Regions from separate parts of the Homo sapiens genome. Here regions 1 and 2 are each linked to region 3. Evidence: fine-mapped expression QTL. A gene starts in region 3. Each other region holds a variant in brackets. All regions are shown on one strand. Distances are from middle to middle. Region 1 has its middle 12 kb from the start of UBB. Region 2 has its middle 17 kb from the start of TRPV2. Region 3 holds the start of SNHG29 (small nucleolar RNA host gene 29).

The links. PIP is the estimated chance that this variant, and not a neighbour inherited with it, causes the effect.
Region 1: its variant is the best candidate, but not a certain one, in a credible set for the expression of SNHG29 in whole blood (INTERVAL, PIP 0.61).
Region 2: its variant is the best candidate, but not a certain one, in a credible set for the expression of SNHG29 in sun-exposed skin (GTEx, PIP 0.71).

What each region holds. Positions count from the first base shown.
Region 1 is chr17:16,390,965-16,395,261 of GRCh38, forward strand. It overlaps the pseudogene FTLP12. Among named protein-coding and RNA genes, the nearest start is that of UBB, 12 kb to the left of the region's middle. The variant CAAAAAA/C (reference allele first, on the strand shown) is at 2,154.
Region 2 is chr17:16,396,546-16,400,545 of GRCh38, forward strand. No RefSeq gene overlaps it. Among named protein-coding and RNA genes, the nearest start is that of TRPV2, 17 kb to the right of the region's middle. RefSeq lists a cis regulatory region at 1,603-2,666. The variant G/C (reference allele first, on the strand shown) is at 2,342.
Region 3 is chr17:16,436,824-16,441,170 of GRCh38, forward strand. SNHG29 (small nucleolar RNA host gene 29) reads left to right here and starts at 2,164. Exons shown (of 4, transcript NR_045025.1): 1 at 2,164-2,237; 2 at 3,362-3,430; 3 at 4,251-4,307. It overlaps SNORD49B (small nucleolar RNA, C/D box 49B), which reads left to right and starts at 2,686; the gene lies at 2,686-2,733. It overlaps SNORD49A (small nucleolar RNA, C/D box 49A), which reads left to right and starts at 3,213; the gene lies at 3,213-3,283. TRPV2 (transient receptor potential cation channel subfamily V member 2) reads left to right here. Exons shown (of 15, transcript NM_016113.5): 15 at 1-180. The coding sequence ends at 66. RefSeq lists enhancers at 666-1,567, 1,568-2,467, 1,583-1,772, 1,833-2,162, 2,468-3,369 and 1 more.

The sequences.
Region 1 (4,297 bases), 46 kb before region 3:
AGCTATTCGGGAGACTGAGGTGGGAGGATCACTTGAGCCCAGGGGGCCGAGGCTGCAGTGAGCTGTGATCTCCCCACTGCTCTCCAGCCTGGGAGACAGAGCAAGACCCTGTCTCAATCATCATCATCATCATCTGACAATCTTTTTCTTTATGGCTTCTGGGCCAAAGGAATAAATGAAGGTATAAGGCTTGTTGATAACTATTAATAACACACATTAAAAAAAAAACTATGCATAACACACATTCGAAATCTACAGCGCGTTGCCTGAAGTTAGCATGTTGGGTTCTGGCTCTGTCTTTTGCTTCAACAGTGTTTGGAACGAACAGACCAGGGGGCTCCCTCTTCCAGCCTCTGATCGCCTCCCATCTCCTTTCCACTTGAGCCTCCAAGACCATCTTCTTGGCAACCTCCTGCTTCTGGGCCCAGCCAACACCGTTTTTGTGGTTATCTGCTTCTTGTCCCCAAGCATGAGCTCCCAGATGTGTCAGAATCATTCCACCCAGGCGGAGGCAACCACTAACTGCCTGGTCAACTGGCATCTCTCTGGGCTTCTACTTCAGCCGTGACGATGTGGCTCTGGAAGGTGAACTGGCCAAGCGTCTCTGGAAGATGCAAAGCCAGCATGGCAGCCCGCTCTTCTGCAGGACCTGCAGATGAGATGAGTGGGATAAAACCCTGGATGCCGCGGGGGCAGCCTTGGCCCTGGAGAGGAGCCTGAACCAGCCTATTCTGGGTCTTCACGCCCTGGGTTCTGCTGGCACAGACCTCATCTCTGGGACTTCCTAGAGAGGCCTTTCCTAGATGTGGGAGTGAAACTCGTCAAGAGAGTGGATGATCGCCTGACCTCTGCGGGCTGGCCGCCCGGAGCTGGGTCAAGCAACTGTCTTTTCCAAAGTCTTGCCACCCTCAAGCACGACTGGGAGCCTAGCGAGCCCAGCGACCTCTGAGAGGCTCCTCTCAAACGATCAGGGTTTCTGCCTGCCTGAGCCTCCCCCTCCAGCCACTAGGCAGCTTTTTAACACCCTGGAGCCCTCTCCCAAGCCTGGACCAAATTTGCAGGGACAAAAGCGGGGCAGGGGCTGGGGTGGGGAAATCAAATTAATGACCTTCTTAGGGTAAAGATGTTTCAGGAAGAGGAAACCTGCCATCCCACAACCCCTAGACCATAATAGCATTTATTCCTTCCAGGGATCAACAAACCAGTGACAGAGAGACTCTGGAGCCATTGAAATCTACTGATTGAGGCCAGGCACGGTGGCTCACGCCTGTAATCCCAGCACTTTGGGAGGCCAAGGCGGGAGGATCACAAGGTCAGGAGTTGGAGACCAGACTGGCCAACATAGCAAAACCCCATCTCTACTAAAAATACAAAAAAAAAATTAGCCAGACGTGGTGGCAGGTGCCTGTAATCCCAGCTATTCAGGAGGCTGAGGCAGGAGAACCACTTGAACCTGGGAGGCAGAGGTTGCAGTGAGCCGAGATCGTGCCATTGTACTTCAGCCTAGGCGATAAGAGCAAGACTCCATCTCAAAAAAAAAAAAAGAAAAATCTACTGATTAATGCCTATCTTAACTCCAGTGTCAATAGTAGCTTTGACAAACGCCTTTTATATCATGTGGCTATACTTTGCCAAGCATACTGAGCACTATTATAATTGTTTCCTAATACCCCATGTGATACCCCCATGCTTCATACGTTTATAACACATTTAAAAATAGCATGACGCCAGGGGCGGTGGCTCACGCCTGTAATCCCAGCCCTTTGGGAGGCTGAGGCGGGCAGATCGCCTGAGGTCAGGAATTCAAGACCAGCCTGGCCAACATAGTGAAACCCTGTCTCTACTAAAAATGCAAAGAATTAGCTGGGCGTGGGCCGGGCGCGGTGGCTGACACCTGTAATTCCAGCACTTTGGGAGGCCTAGGCAGGCGGATCACCTGAGGTTGGGAGTTCGAGACCAGCCTGACCAACATGGAGAAACCCCGTCTCTACTGAAAATACAAAATTTGCCAGGCATGGTGGCCCATGCCTGTAATCCCAGCTAATTGGGAGGCTGAGGCAGGAGAATCGCTTGAACCCAGGAGGCAGAGGTTGCGGTGAACCGAGATCGCATCAAGGCACTCCAGCCTAGGTGACAAGAGCAAAACTCTGTCT[CAAAAAA/C]AAAAAAAAAAAAATTAGCTGGGCATGGTGGGCGGGAGCCTGTAATCCCAGTTACTAGGGAGGCTGAGGCAGGAGAATTGCTTGAACCCAGGAGGCGGAGGTTGTGGTGAGCCGAGATCACGCCATTGCACTCCAGCCTGGACAACAAGAGCAAATCTCTGTCTCAAAAAAAAAAAATTTTTTTTCAGATAATCTGGAACGGTAAAAAGAAGAGAGTAAAATTACCTAAATAAATTACCAAATTCCCATCATCTGGAGGTAACTATTGATAGCACAGATTTTTAAAAAATGGGTTATCATATAATGCTTTCTATTTTTTATCCTGCTTTTTTAAACTTAATTTTTCTACTTACATTGTTTTATGCTAATAAATATATATCTTCATTTAAATAGCTGCATAGCTTTCTGTTGTATATATCATAATTTATTTAACTCATACTAATGGGGCATTTGTAAACAACTCTATGGTGTAAATGCATCCCTTCATATATATTTATATGTGTATGTGTGTGTGTGTGTGTGTGTGTGTGTGTGTGTGTGTATTTAGAGATAGGCTCCCACTCTGCTGCCCAGGCTTGTGTGCAGTGGTGCAATCATAGCTAACTGTATCCTCAAATTCCAGTGTCAAGTGATCTTCCCACCTCAGCCTCCTGAGTAGCTGGGACCACAGGCACATGCCACCTTGCCTGGCTAATTTATTTTGATTTTTATTTTTTTGTAGAGGTGGGGTCTTACCATATGACCCAGGATGGTCTCAAACTCGTGGCCTCAAGTGGTCCTCCTACCTCAGCCTCCTAAAGCATTGGGATTTAGAGGCATAAGCCACTGTGCCCAGTCTCTTGACATATTTTGTAAATTAAAAACGAGGAAGAAATATTTACAACACAGGCGTGTGCCACCATACCCAGCTAATTTTTTGTATTTTTAGTAGAGACAGGGTTTCACCATGTTGGCCAGGCTGGTCTCAAACTCCTGACCTCAAGTGATCCGCCCACCTCAGCCTCCCAAAGTGCTGGGATTACAAGCATGAGACACTGTGCCTGACGTTAAAGGACTAATTTCTTTCTTTTTTTTCTTTTCTTTTGAGACAGGATCTTACTCTGTCACCCAGACTGGAGTGCTGTGATACGATCACAGCTCATTGCAGTCTCCATGTCCCAGGCACAAGTGATCCACCTCAGCTTCCCAAGTAGCTGGGACTACAGGGGCACATACTACACCTGGCTAATTTAAAAAACTCTTTGTAGAGACAGGTTCTTGCTATGTTTCTCAGACTGGTCTTGAACTGCTGACCTCAAATGATCCTTCTGCCTCAGCCTCTGAAAGTGCTGGGATTACAGGCATGGGCCACTGCACCCACCGAAAGGACTAATTTCTTCAATATATAAGTGGTTTCTATAAATATATGAGAAACAGATTAATAACACAATAGGAAAATGGACAAAGGACAGGAGCAGACAATTCACAGAAAAGAAAATTGTTGTTTTTTTTTTTTGAGACGGAGTCTCACTCTGTCGCCCAGGCTGGAGTGCAGCGGTGGCACTATCTCGGCTCACTGCAAGCTCTGCCTCCTGGGTTCACGCCACTCTCCTGCCTCAGCCTCCCGAGTAGCTGGGACTACAGGCACCCGCCACCACGCCAGGCTAATTTTGTTTTTTGTATTTTTAGTAGAGATGGGGTTTCACCATGTTAGCCAGGATGGTCGCGATCACCTGACCTCATGATCCGCCGACCTCGTGATCCGCCCGCCTCGGCATCCCAAAGTGCTGGGATTACAGGTGTGAGCCACCGCGCCTGGCCAAAAATTGTTCTTAAACACATGACAAGATGTGCAGCTTCACTTAGCATAAGAAAAATGACCATTCAATGTATGAAGTGGCATTTTTTAATATTTCAGATTGACAAAGATAAAACAAGACTGTTAATACTTTTGTTTACAAGAGTGCAGAGAAATGCATCCTCATGTATTGTTGGTCGGTGTAAACTGGTACAACCTCTTTGGAAGGCAGTTGGGTAAGTAGCTATGAAAATCTCAACTGCAGCTGGGCGAAGTGCCTGTCATCCCAGCACTTTGGGAGACCGAGGCGGGTGGATCACCTGAGGTCAGGAGTTCGAGACCAGCCTGACCAACATGTTGA
Region 2 (4,000 bases), 40 kb before region 3:
CACACCAGCCAGGACCTTGAGAAGGGAGAAGGTGCTGAGCCACTCAAGCACATGGCCAGGGGAGCTTAGAAAAACAGGGACTTCCAACCTGCCTGGGCAATATAGCGAGACCCCGTTCTCCAAAAACAAGGAAAAAAGAAAAAAGAAAAAGAGGGACCCTCCAAACACAAGCAGGGAGAAGCTGAAGAAGTGGGTGCTAGAAGAGCCTGGAGATGTGTAGATGGCAGCCTGTCTGCTGCTCTGGGCCTTGGCCATTGCCTGTGCTGCTGATGCTTCTGCTGTCTCTTCTCCTTTCACAAAACTACAAGAGCTCAGGTTGGGGCTGCTCAAAAGCTTCCCGCAATGTGCTGATTCACTCTAAGTGCCTGCTCCTCTGCAGACTGACTTCATGCACTTAAAATAATTCACTCGTTTCATTGTTAGCTCTGTCCTCTCCACTTGCATTTCAGGCCAGAGCACTACAGTGAGGTCCCAAGCTCTGTCCTGTAAACCACAGGTAAAATTCTAAGGCCCCTCCACAACCATCTGAATGGGCCCCTCTTCTTGGCTAAGGACATTCCCAAGTAAATCTGAAAATCTAGTTCAGGACATGACGGAAGAGCAGGTCACACAAGCATCATTATAACTTCCTCCCTTTTGGAATTCAGGAAAAGCCAACCAGCATTAACATCAACACAGATCTTAAGTCTGGTAAGAAACATTTACAATCTATTTTCTCTGAAGTTTGCTACCTGGAAGCTTCATCTGCCTGATAAAACCTTGGTCTCTACAACCCCTTATCAAAACCCAGGCATTTCTTTCTACTGATAATAAGTCTTTCTTCTTTTTTTTTTTTTTCCTAGATAGAGTCTCGCTCTGTCGCCCAGACTGGAGTGCAGCAGCACCATCTTGGCTCACTGCAACCTCTTCCTCCCGGGTTCAAGCGATTCTCCCGCCTCAGCCTCCTGAGTAACTGGGATTACAGGCATGTGCCACCACACCCGGCTAATTTTCTTTTTTGTGAGACAGAGTTTCACTCTTGTTGCCCAGGCTGGAGTGCAATGGTATGATCTCGGCTCACCACAACCTCTGCCTCCCAGGTTCAAGCGATTCTCCTGCCTCAGCCTCCTGAGTAGCTGGGATTACAGGCATGCGCCACCACACCCGGCTGATTTTGTATTTTTAGTAGAGACAGGGTTTCTCCATGTTGGCCAAGCTGGCCTCGAACTCCTGACCTCAGGTGATCCACCCGCCTCGGCCTCCCAAAGTGCTGGGATTATAAGCGTGAGCCATGGCACCTGGCCAACTCTTTCAACTAATTGCCAATCAGAAAAACTTTAAAATCTGCCTGTGACCTGGATACACTCCTCACACGCACTTCGAGTTGTCCTGCCCTTCCATATGGAACCAACGTAAGTCCTATATGTATTTGACTGATGTCTCATGTCTCCCTAAAATGTATAAAACTAGGCTGTGTCTGAGCACCTTGGGCACATGTTCTCAGGATCTCCTGAGGGCTGTGTCACAGGCCATTGATCACTCATATTTGGCTCAGAATAAATCTCCTCAAATACTTTTTTGTCAACAGTCCACTGGGCTCAGGTGAGCAGGGCCTGAAACAGATGACATGGAAATTTATAATAAAATAAGGGGCCCGTGCCTTAAGACATACCACAAAGTAAATATAACACTGTACAGGCTCTCTCGGGTGACCCTGGACTACAGAATGTGGGTTGTGGGGAGGGAGAGACGTGGACTTTTTCCTGCAGGTCATGGCTTGGGTGCACCTAGAAACAGGCCAATACCACCTCTTCTTTTCTGGAAAGGTGGGGCCTGACAGCTTTGTGTGGGGAACCAGTGTCCTGTTACAGTTCAGGTCTAAAATGCCTGCTGAGTAAATAAACATGTTGTTCTCAACCTAAACCGAAAAGCCTGATATTTGTAGGAATAAAATTGATCTTTCCTACCCTGAGCAAAGTGCTCCAAATATGCTCAGTCATGGAGTGGAGACAGATAAGTAAACAGACGCTGGGAATAGAGTGGAGACAGATAAATAAACAGATGCTGGGGATATGTCGTGATACAGAGCCAGGCCAGAGTCAAGCAAGGTGCTGCATTGGCATTCTGCCGGCCTTTCCTGCAGGAAAAGGTGTGAAAAAGCTCTTGGGGTGATGGGAAGGGGTGTGCTGTTTTGAAATCGGAAGATAAAAACAGAGCCATGGAGGTTCTGCGCCATCGCCTTGGAACAGATGGTATCTGCCTCCACATCTGCAATGACTCAGATCTCTGCTCTGGGCATACCTGCAGTCAAATCAGGGCTGCCCAGACATCCTGTGTTTGTGAAATGCTGAGAAAAACAGAA[G/C]GGGACTAACTGGCTTCTAGCAGTTGCCTACTCATCCACCCTCTTCCAAACACCCAGGCTGGGGAGTAACATTTTGGGGATGAGTCCTCGTAATGCTGCTTCTCTCTAGAGAGCAATGTGTGAAAATTGACCCAAGGAGTTGTCTCATGGGGTGAGGCATGATTGGCTGTCTTTTCTCAGAGCCTCCCTGAGGCTCATCTACCCCCATGCCCTGAGCTCACTGGGGCCTGCCTGGCCAAACAGAATATACCCATTAAGGGAAATAAATTTCCAGGCCACAATAACAAGCATCACCACTTTGAAAAGAAAGAACCATAAACTGAAATTCTTCAGAATAAGAATTTTTAATTAGCCTAATAAACACATTAAAAGATATAAAGGAAAATACTAGAACTATGAAACAAATGAATACAAAAACACCAAAAAGAACCAACAAGAAATACTAAGTTGAAAATATAAAAGTTGAGGCTGGGCACAGCGGCTCAAGCCTGTAATCCCAGCGCTTTGGGATGCCAAGGCGGGTGGATCACCTGAGGTCGGGAGTTCGAGACCAGCCTGACCAACATGGTGAAACCCCATCTCTACTAAAAATACAAAAATTAGCCGGGCGTGGTGGCACGTGCCTGTAATCCCAGCTACTCAGGAGGCTGAGGCAGGAGAATTGCTTGAGCCCGGGAGGCGGAGGTTGCAGTGAGCTGAGATCGCGCCACTGCACTCCAACCTGGGTAACAGAGCAAGACTCTGTTTCAAAAAAAAAAATTAGCCAGGGGTAGTGGTGAACGCCTGTAGTCCCAGCTACTCAGGAGGCAGAGGCAGGAGAATCACTTGAACCCAGGAGGCGGAGGTTGCGGTGAGCTGAGATCACACCATTGCACTCCAGCCTGGGCAACAAGAGCAAAACTCCCACTCAAAAAAAAAAGGGCCGAGCACAGTGGCTCACACCTGTAATCCCAGCACTTTGGTGTAGGGAAAAGAGAGATCAGACTGTTACTGCGTCTATGTAGAAAGGGAAGACATAAGAAGTTCCATTTTGACCTGTACATTTTTTTTTTTTGAGACGGAGTCTTGCTCTGTCGCCCAGGCTGGAGTGCAGAGGCGCGATCTCAGCTCACTGCAAGCTCTGCCTCCCGGGTTCACGCCATTCTCCTGCCTCAGCCTCCCCAGTAGCTGGGACTACAGGCGCCCACCACCACGCCCACCTAATTTTTTGTATTTTTCGTAGAGAAGGGGTTTCACCATTTTAACCAGGATGGTCTCGATCTCCTGACCTCGTGATCCGCCCACCTCAGCCTCCCAAAGCGTACCTTGAACAATTGCTTTGCTGAAATGTTGTTAATTTGTAACTTTGCCCCAGCCACTTTGCCCCAGCCACTTTGCCCCAACTTTGAGCTCACAAAAACATGTGTTGTATGGAATGAAGGTTTAAGGGATCTAGGGCTGTGCAGGAGGTGCCTTGTTAACAAAATATTTACAAGCAGTATGCTTGGTAAAAGTCATCACCATTCTCTAGTCTCAATAAACCAGGGGCACTATGCACTGCGAAAAGCCGCAGGGACCTCTGCCCTGGAAAGCTGGGTATTGTCCAAGATTTCTCCCCATGTGATAGTCTGAAATATGGCCTCATGGGATGAGAAAGACCTGACTGTCCCCCAGCCCGAC
Region 3 (4,347 bases):
AAGGAGGATGAGGATGGTGCCTCTGAGGAAAACTATGTGCCCGTCCAGCTCCTCCAGTCCAACTGATGGCCCAGATGCAGCAGGAGGCCAGAGGACAGAGCAGAGGATCTTTCCAACCACATCTGCTGGCTCTGGGGTCCCAGTGAATTCTGGTGGCAAATATATATTTTCACTAACTAACTCTTCTGGAAACATTATTTGGGCAGAGTTGCTGGGACCCTTAGAGCTGGCAATGTCTGCATGTCTCTGTGTGCACAGGTCTGTGTATGGGACTAGGTTGCTCCTGCCCTTGCCTGGGCACAGAGACCCTCAGTTGCTGTGTCCCCACCCTCACCCCCACATCCCCAAGTCTGGGGACTGTCCTCTTCCTGGGTACAGGCAGCTGGCTGAGGTGCTGTGCCCATTGTTGTGGCAGATATATGGTGATGGACATGGGCAAACAGCCACCTCTCCTCTCTCTCCACCACGACACCCTTTGCTTTCCACACCCACCCTGCTTTTGGGCAGGTACCTGGGAAAACCCATTAAAGCCACCTCTCTTGCTTTCTCTTCCTACCGAGCTTCTTGCTCAATTCCCACCCCTCCCAAGCCATTCTCTGCAGGGCAGCCAGAGGGCCTTCCTAAGACATAAGACAAACATGTCCTCTTTGTGCTCTGAAGGCCTGAGAGGCTCCCCAGTACCCACAGAATGCCCTAGCTGACATCCCGAGACCCCCACGGTTTTGCCCAAGCAGTTCCAGACACCTCCTCCCCTCCACCTCTGTTGCCCCTCCCTCCTTAGCACTCTCCCCAAATTCATGCAGGCCGAGAGACCTCGTGCTTGATCCCTTGACCTGGCTCTTGCTGGAAGCCCCCCTCCTCCATTAAAACCCTACACTTGGGGGTGGGGGGAGGGATAGCATTAGGAGATATACCTAATGTAAATGATGAGTTAATGGGTGCAGCATACCAACATGGCACATGTATACATATGTAACAAACCTGCACGTTGTGCACATGTACCCTAGAACTTAAAGTATAATAATAAAATAAAACCCTACACTTGCCGGGCGCCTGTAATCCCAGCACTCTGGGAGGCCCAGGCGGGCGGATCACCTGAGTTCAGGAGTTCGAAACCAGCCTGACCAACATGGAGAAACCCCGTCTCTACTAAAAATACAAAATTAGCCGGGCGTGGTGGCGCATGCCTGTAATCCCAGCTACTCGGGAGGCTGAGGCAGAAGAATCGCTTGAACCCGGGAGGCAGAGGTTGCGGTGAGCGGAGATCGCGCCATTGCAGTCCAGCCTGGGCAACAGGAGCGAAATTCCGTCTCAAAAAAACACAAAAACGAGCAACAACAACAACAACAACAAAAACCCTACACTTATTTCTGAGGCCAGCTCAAAAGGTCTTATGATTGTCTTCCCAGTTTTTTGCAGTCAAAATGAATTTCTTTCCCTTGGTATAACGTGTGTGTGCAAAACGTGGTTGCATGGATTCTTTTTCAAGGAGAGAGCTGAGCATGTTCATAGGCTGAAAGGAAAGCCACAGTAGAGAGAGTTTTCCATGGAAGGTGAGGCAGGGGCATAGGTGGAGGAGGCCCCAAGGAATGAGGAGAGGAAAGGAGGTGGGCAGAGCTTTACCCCAGAGGCGAGCAGAGGATGGACGTGGATCTAGATAAGACGTCAGCTCGTTCCCTAAAGGTCGTGCTAAAGGAGTAATGAGGGTGACCAGTGCGCAGGGGTTTGAGAAGCCCCGTGGATGTGGTGAAATAGCTGTGGGGAGAGTATTTGGCAACGCTCAATAGATTCAGGAGGAGCTACTAGGATGAATGGCTGCCTTGTGCCACAGCTCTACAGGCTTTCACGTGTGTCATCTCACGTGATCTTCTGGGGCGCTGGTGTCTCCGTTTACTAGAGGACCAATCGGAAGCTTAAAGAGAATGAGTAATTGGCCCAAGACCACCCAGCTAAGGAGTGGCGGAGGTGGGGCCCAAACGCGCGATCCAGCCCTCGCGCAGGCGCCCTGGAACTCCCCGCGCGTGTTGTGACCCAGAATTCCCGGGGCTGTGGAAGAGACCATAGACTCAACAGGAGGGGGAGTCCTGGGTAGCGCGCCGGTCTAAATCGTTACTTGGCGGAAAGTTCCCATGAGTCTTTGCCAGCGTCCCCCTCCTTTTGTGAGGATTGGGATATTCCGACTCCTTAAGGGCCTGGCGCACATAAGGTGTGACCTTTTCATTCCCGTTGTTATGGAGGTAGGCTCTCTAGGAATCTGGGAGTAGTAGCTGGGGGGCAAGAGCAAATAAAGAGCTCGAGCTTCTGTGGTCTCTGGGGAGATGTTCCCGGGAAGCCTGTCTAGAGGGCGGAGGGCAGCTGTTGAGATGGCGTGGCTCCCCGGCTCCTGCGCCCGCGTGGCTTTCGCGGCGGGCGCTGCGGCCCGGTATTGGACAGCCTGGCAGGGCAGCGCGGGGCCGAATCCGGCTGCCGTGGCTGAGGCTCATGGATCACTCTTTTGTGGTAGGGCCACATCTGCCAGAGCCTGGAGTCTGCGAAGGCCGGGACCCGGTTCCCCGGCCCACAGTGGGGGTGTGCAAACCCGAGAGAACTGGGTAAGTTGGGGTCGGCTTGCAGTTTGGGGTACCCCGAGGGCGGTGTACGTCGGTAAGATTGTAACAGTATTACTGGAAGACTTATTCGACTGTCCTGATGATACTTGTAATAGGAAGTGCCGTCAGAAGCGATAACTGACGACGTCTAATGTCTATCTGACCGCAGTCGCTGAAACCTCTACAACTTAGTTGACCGTAACTGCCAGAGCCCTGCCCTGAATTCCTGTCCTTACTCCCTCTTTAAGATTGCGTACCCACTGCAGAGTGCTGAAGACGGGGTAGCCACGAGGTGAGAGGCTCTCTGGTGTAGGGTTTAACATGGAACGTAGTTTTGTCACTTGAATGCACGGAAATTGGCGTTTTGACAGTTTTCTACGTTTAGGTGTTTTATACACTTTAGGGTAACGTTATCATGTCATTGCATAGGGTGGAACTTAAATAGAAACTGGAGATGGCTGCTTCAGCCACAGTCCTAACCTAGAACTGCATTTAAAGCAAACTGATAATGCAGAAACAAACTCCTTCGTTAAGAAATGTCTCCAGTAGCAGGGTTAGCTTAAGTTTCAGGTAGGGTCTAGATCTGCGGTTGGAACAGTACTGGAGGGTTGTGAGGTGCTTGACTGCTCTGATGAAATCACTAATAGGAAGTGCCGTCAGAAGCGATAACTGACGAAGACTACTCCTGTCTGATTGCAGTCAAGTCTTCACCACTTGCTGGTTCCCAGGAGTAAACTTGTTTGAACGGTGACCTAATTGCTATATTCACCTAGGTTGCAAATTCGTGAAGAATCAGCATCATGTTTGGCAGCTGAGTATTGGAGCCAGGAGCCTGCCATGAGGTAAGCCTTGCTCTATGGGGAGGCTAGTGGCTGACCACGCCTAGCTGTCAGGTCGAATATTGGCAATTGGATTTGGTTAACCTAATACCTTGTAACAGTGTAGCCTATCCCAGAGATACTGATTTTAGTTTCCGGTGGCAGTGGAGCCAGGGTGGATTACCTAGAAAGAGGGGCTACTCTATTTACCTCTTGGCTGTTTAGTCTCGGGCAAATTACCTGTCTGCTGAGATGTAGTTTTCCTCAGATGTGAAAAGGAAAAGTAATCTTAGCTTTGTGAAGTTTAAATTGATATGACTGAAATGGAGATTACAACTCCCCTGAGGCTGGGCACAGTGGCCTGTAATCCCAGCACTTTGGGAGGCTAAGGTGGGTGGATCACCTGAGGTCAGGAGTTCAAGACCAGCCTGGCTGGCCGACATGGTGAAACCCCATCTCTACCAAAAATACAAAAATTAGCCGGGTGTGGTGGCGTGTACTTGTAATCCCAGCTACTTTGGGGGCTGAGCCAGGAGAATCGCTTGAACCCGGGAGGCGGAGGTTGTAGTGAGTCGAAATCGTGCCACTGCACTCCAGCCTGGGCAACAGCGAGACTCCATCTCAAAAAAAAAAAAAAAATTACAACCTACTGAGAAGCTAATTAAGATTTGTAGTCCTCAATAATTTACAAAAACTTAGAAAAATTACCTCTAATTAGGTCTTAAGGGGCTTTTGTTAGGATGGACTTAAATTTGTAAAGTCATTAATTGACTGTCATCAGAAATGCCTGTCCTGCTCTGCATCTGCAGTCTCTAAGGTGTATGCGCCTTCTCCATTCCCCCAGGTTTTGAGAACAGAGTGCTGTTTTAGAGCTGGCAGCAGCATCTCAGCCCAAGAGAAGGTAAGCCTTGAGCTGGCCAATGATCCCTTCAACCCCATAG